Linked DNA regions of Homo sapiens: region 2 is linked to region 1. Evidence: fine-mapped expression QTL. A gene starts in region 1. The other region holds a variant in brackets. All regions are shown on one strand. Distances are from middle to middle. Region 1 holds the start of FFAR2 (free fatty acid receptor 2). Region 2 has its middle 15 kb from the start of LINC01531.

Region 1 (2,906 bases):
TCGACGCAGCCTCGATGATCTTGAAGGGCAGCAGCAGCAGCAGGAGGAGGTCGGCCAGCGTCAGGCTCAGCAGGAGGATGTGCACAGGTGCAGGCTGGGGCTGGCGGATCCGCCCCACAAAGGCCCGCAGGGCCAGGAGGTTGGCAGGGAGGCCAGTGAGGAAGATGATGATGTAAGCCATGAGGATCAAGGAGCTCTTCCAGTCCGGCAGCATCCTGGAGGGGAACAAAAAAGGGCGGGGTCAGGGAGGTCTCACTCACAGCCCGCGCAGCCAGCTCTCCTTCAGGATGCGGACATCCTCCCCGGCACCGTCCCCTTCCCAGGACTGTGCTTTCTGATGCCACCACGGCTTGCTCACACCACCTGCTCGAACTACCCAGAGCAATTATTGACTTTGCCTGGGGCGGGATATTAAGCAGTAGTGATTATGTTTGCCATCATGTGTCTCTGGAGGAGACCAACTCGTGGCTTCCCAAGGGAATTCCCCCTCCAGTTTCCCTAGCCTTTCTCCTCCTGTCCTCACAGATACAGGAAGTTACTGTTGCCAGTTTCTAACTTTACTCAAGTCCCTTTCTCAGACAGAGACCTGCAGGAGAGAAAGGCATCAGTGCCGGGAGAGAGCTGTAAGATGCTTATCAGTATAAAGAGGCTGTGGCGCCCCAGGCGCGGATACCCAGTGCCAGCTCTCCAAAGGACCCAAGTGCCCAGCCACCAGCCCAGCTTCCTACTTCCGTTCGTCTGTTTTGCAGAGCACAGATTCTCCCCCACCTTGTCCTCTCCTGTCCAACACCAAACTCTGGGACTCTCTAGAAAAGGGGAAGCTGGGGCTGGGCGCAGTGGCTCACTTCTGTAATCCCAGCACTTTGGGAGGCCGAGGCGGGCAGATCACCTGAAGTCAGGAGTTCGAAACAAGCCTGGCCAACGTGGTGAAACCCCATCTCCACTAAAAAAAAAAAAAATTAGCCGGGTGATATGGCGGGCACCTGTAATCCCAGCTACTTGGTAGGCTGAGGCAGGAGAATCGCTTGAACCGGGAAGCAGAGGTTGCAGTGAGTCAAGATTGCGCCATTGCACTCCACCCTGGGCGGTAAGAGCAAAAACTCCGTCTAAAAAAAAAAAAAAAGAAAAGAAAAGGGGAAGCTGGGAGGCTTAGAGGAGGGTGGAGGGGAAGAAGGATGAACCAGCACTAGCCTTAGGAGGAAGGCTTGTCCCTAGAAGACCTTAGAGAAATATTCAGAAAAGCCCACAGGCCTTCACTGGCCCTTGAGCGTGGCATTCTGACCATAAATAGAACTCGTCTTCTTCACGGGGTAACTCAGTTTCCACTTGGGGTGTCACCCTTGCTGGCCCCAACCCAGGTCCTGTCCCTCTGTCCACTCTCCAGCCTTGATTTCCTGGCTGTTTCCTTGCTCCTCACACTAGCTCCTGTCTCTGGGTATGAGTCTTCCATTTGGTTCTGACATCCTTCCTCCAGTCTCCCAGAACCTTCCCCTCAAACCTGATCCTGGCCTCTCTTCCCAGAGCACAAGCACTACACTAGCTGCCTTGCCTTGTGTTGTTCCGGATAGGTGGCTTCTTGGGATTGGTTCTGAAGGGAGGTCTGCAAGCTTCCAGGAGAGAGGAACAGAGCTTTAGCCCCTGCTTCTGTCCATGCCATGCAGGAAAAAATGGTGAGGAACCTGGCTGGTAGTAAGCATTTATACTAGCACCAGCCACGTGACCAGAGAAAGGAAGGTCAGTCTTTAAGCACTATTTCCTCTCAAACCCAAAGGAAAGGCCCAGCATCTTTATTCTCTCCCTAGAGAATCCTCACTCTTGACTTCCAAATTCAGATTTTTCTGTCCTTAATTCCTGATTTAAAAAAAAAATTCCCAGGCATTTTTCTTTTTTTACTTCCCAAGTCAGATTATTTTCTTTTCTCTTTCTTAGGCAGTTTCTTCTGTCATTCTGCTCATTCTCAGAAATGAGCTTTCCTCCTTCCTTTTTATTTTTCCTCTTTTTTTTTGGTTTTTTTTTTCGAGGCTGAATCTTGCTCTGTTGTCTAGGCTGGAGTGCAGTGGCGCCATCTCAGCTCACTGCAACCTCTGCCTCCCGAGTCCAAGCGATTCTCCTGCGTCAGCCTCCCTGGGATGACAGGCACCTGCCACCACGCCCAGCTAATTTCTGTATTTTTAGTAGAGACAGGGTTTCACCATGTTGGCTGGTCTTGCACTCCTGACCTCAAGTGATCCGCCTGCCTTGGCCTCCCAAAGTGCTGCGATTACAGGCGTGAGCCACTGCACCCGGCACTCCTTCCTTTTCTTCTTCAATTTTTTTACTTTCTCTATGGTCTCCTGCCCTCTGCCCCCAACACATTTCTTTTGCCCGTCTCAGCTGAAACAGGCTGGTCCTGGCCTGCATCTTGTTGTGATGGAAATGGTGTGGGAGTTATAGTCATGCAGATATGGGCTCAAATCCAGGTCCCTTCATTACAACCTTGGGGGCAGATCCGTTTTCTGAAGTCTAGTTTGCTGTAGTCAAGTGAGCATGCGAATTCTGACATCCTAGGACTTCTGCGAGGATTCAGTGAGGTTGTGTATATAAAGCACTTAGCAGATGCCCGTAAGTGCTGCCTCGTCTCAAGCCTGTAACGCAGCTTCACAGAGAGTGAGCCACTTGGTGCAGCCTCCAGAGGCTCAGGGCATGGATGTGCTGTCCCTCTTGGGAAAGTGTCAGGAATTCAGGAGGCCCGAGTTCACGTGCCCATGTGGCTTTTCGTCAGGGAGTGGCACTCAGGCTCCATTCCTTTCCCTGATAAAGTCTCACTGTTTCCCCCTCTCTGACCTTGGTAGCCCCAGGTTAGGAGCTCCTGAAGGTCCCTTTGAAATACACACCTAATGCAGCAAGGATCGTTGGAACGTGTTTTC
Region 2 (2,906 bases), 28 kb after region 1:
AGATACAATTATTATTTGTCAATTAAAATGGAACTGTGCTGAGCCCACAGTAAGTACTCCACAGTGTTTCCTGCTCCCCTAGGACCCAGGCAGAAGCACCAGCAGCTTCAATTTCCCTCCAGGATCCCGGCATTCAATCCTTTAGTGTTCCTGTCACCACATCCCACTGCTGTAGTGCAGAAAGTGCACAGGGGAGTGGAGACTGGCAGATTCAGTCGTCGTGGGGCCAGGACCATGGTGCGAGGTGCAGGCGAGCACAGGGAAAGCCCTGTTCCTGGGCCAGAGTCCAGCCGGTAGCCGCTGCCCCAGGAGAAGCCAGACTGACGGAGGCACAGACCACGAGCCACTGTGGGAGCTGGAGCAGCCTGGCCATCTCGCATAGTGGCAGTTGCCACAGCAGGTGGAGCAGGGCAGCATTCTTCCCAGGCTACACACATGGCCAAGAGGCTGGCAGAGGGACCAATGGCACAGACAGGATGCAGCTGCAGAGGACTGTCCGCCTGGAGACCTTGGATGCTCTCCTGATTGTATCTGTCAGGTTTCCCACTACAGACAGCAGACTCTCCTCTTGTCAGGTTAAGCGGAAAAGGAATTTTGTTCTTATTTATTTTATTTATTTTTTACTTTTTTTGAGATGGAGTCTTGCTCTATCGCCCAGGCTGGAGAGCAGTGGTGCGAACTTGGCTCACTGCAATCTCTGCCTTCCAGGTTCAAGCATTCTCCCACCTCAGCCTCTCAAGTAGCTGGGATTATAGGCGCCCACCATCACACCCGGCTAATTTTTGTATTTTTAGTAGAGACAGGGTTTCATCATGTTGGCCAGGCTGGTCTCGAACTCCTGACCTCAGGTGATCTGCCTGCCTTGGCCTCCCAAAGTGCTGGGATCACAGGTGTGAGCTTACCATGCCCGGCCTATTTATTTTATTTTAAAATTATTTTTATAGAGATGGGATCTCACTATGTTGCCCAGGCTGATCTCAAACTCCTGGCCTCCAGAGATCCTCTCACTTGGAGCCATCCTCCCATCTCGGCCTCCCCAGACACTGTGATTACAGGCGTGAGCCATCCCACCCAGCCTAGGAATTTTGTTTTTAAAGGGTATTAGGTAGCTTGTGGAATCTCCAGGCCAGCCAGAACACCAGGCTTGGAGGGTATGCCTGGATGATACCCTTGCAGACACCACCACCTCCACCACTGGCGCACACTCTGCGGTTCACACGCTGGGCACTGCTGCCACACCCTCGGCACCTCTCTCTGCCGCCCTGGCAGCTGGCTGTGTGCTGCCAGCTCCCTAGAGTGGCCTCCGGGCCTAACGTCACAGCTATGCTGCACTGCCCCCACCTGGGCTTGGTAACTGGCTGGACTTTGGTCACATGCCTGTGCCCTACATGGGAGCCGACTCTGAGAAAGCAAGTTTCTGCTTCTCCCTTGGGCAGGCGTAGATTCACAGGCAGGGAGTTCAGAGGTTCTGGGTGGCCAAAAAGAATGATGTAAGTCCTTGATGGAAGACGTGTGGTCAGAGCCAGGTGCAGTGGCTCAGGCCTGTCATACCAGCACTTTGGGAGGCCGAGGTTGGCAGATCATTTGAGGTCAGGAATTCGAGACCAGCCTGGCCAACATGGTGAAACCCCGTCTCTACTAAAAATA[C/G]AAATATTAGCTGGGCATGGTGGTGCACACCTGTAATCCCAGCTACTCAGGAGGCTCAGGCAGGAGAATTGTTTGAACTGCGGAGGCTGCAGTGAGCCAAGATCATGCCATTGCACTCTGGCCTGGGTGACAGACCGAGACTTTGTCTCAAAAAAAAAAAAAAAAAAGGCATTAGAAACTAACTTCATCAGATTGTTTTATGACTGAGGAGTGATAATACGTGTGGAAACTTTCAAAACTGCAGAATGCACTTCTGATTGAAATAGTTGTTAAGCAGGCATCTGATTTATTGGTGCAGAGAGGGCCGTCGCCAGCATACTGGGGTGAAGTGCCATGCCTGGCCCATGGGCTGTGACTGTAACCCTTGCATGTCAGAATGTGCCTTGAATCTTCTCTGATTCATTTTTTAAAATCATAAAAGATACAATTCAGAAATGACTTTATTCTTTTTCTTTTTTGAGATGTAGTCTTGCTCCATCTCCCAGGCTAGAGTGCAGTGGTGTGATCTTGACTCACTGCAACCTCTGCCTCCCGGGTTCAAGCGATTCTCCTGCCTCAGCCTCCCAAGTAGCTGGGATTACAGGTGTGTGCCACTGCGCCTGGCTAATTCTTGTATTTTTAGGAGAGACGGGGTTTTGCCAGGCTGTTCTCCAACTCCTGACCTCAAGTGATCTGCCCGCCTCGGCCTCCCAAAGTACTGGGATTACAGGTGTGAGCCACTGTGCCCGGCCCTGGAAATGCCCCTATTCTTTATTATTATATTCTTTATCTTTTATTACTATTAACAAATTACCTAAAAAACATTTGCATTCATTGCTTCCAGGTAACAAAAAACCTTGCTTCAGCTAATTGTGCAAAAATGAGAATTTATTAGCTATGAAATTGAAGAGTTGAAAGTGGCTTCAGGAATGGTGAGATCCATATGCCGAAATGAAACTTTCAGCCACCTGTCTCCATGACTCAGCTCTGCTTCTCTATGCTGGCTTTGCTCTCAGGCAAATTCCTCCTGCGTGGTGGCGGGAAGCTCCAGGATTACCTTCTACCTTCCTAACCACCCTGTGGAAAGAGAAAGCTGCTTTCTGAATTAGTCTAGAAGAGTCTAGAAAAGATTGACTCTAGATGGACTGAGATTGCCAAGTCTGGGTTGCATGCCCTGCAGTGATAATGGGGCCAACCTCCCCTTCTCCCCCTGTCCCCCTCCCCACATCCCACAGACCAAGAGTAGAGGGGGAGTGGTTAACTAGAGGAAAATTGGGATG

The links. PIP is the estimated chance that this variant, and not a neighbour inherited with it, causes the effect. A credible set is the group of variants that fine-mapping cannot tell apart.
Region 2: its variant is the best candidate, but not a certain one, in a credible set for the expression of FFAR2 in whole blood (TOPMed, PIP 0.68).

Annotation. Positions count from the first base shown.
Region 1 is chr19:35,447,023-35,449,928 of GRCh38, reverse strand. FFAR2 (free fatty acid receptor 2) reads right to left here and starts at 1,672. Exons shown (of 2, transcript NM_001370087.1): 1 at 1,550-1,672; 2 at 1-215. The coding sequence starts at 214.
Region 2 is chr19:35,418,973-35,421,878 of GRCh38, reverse strand. No RefSeq gene overlaps it. Among named protein-coding and RNA genes, the nearest start is that of LINC01531, 15 kb to the right of the region's middle. The variant C/G (reference allele first, on the strand shown) is at 1,648.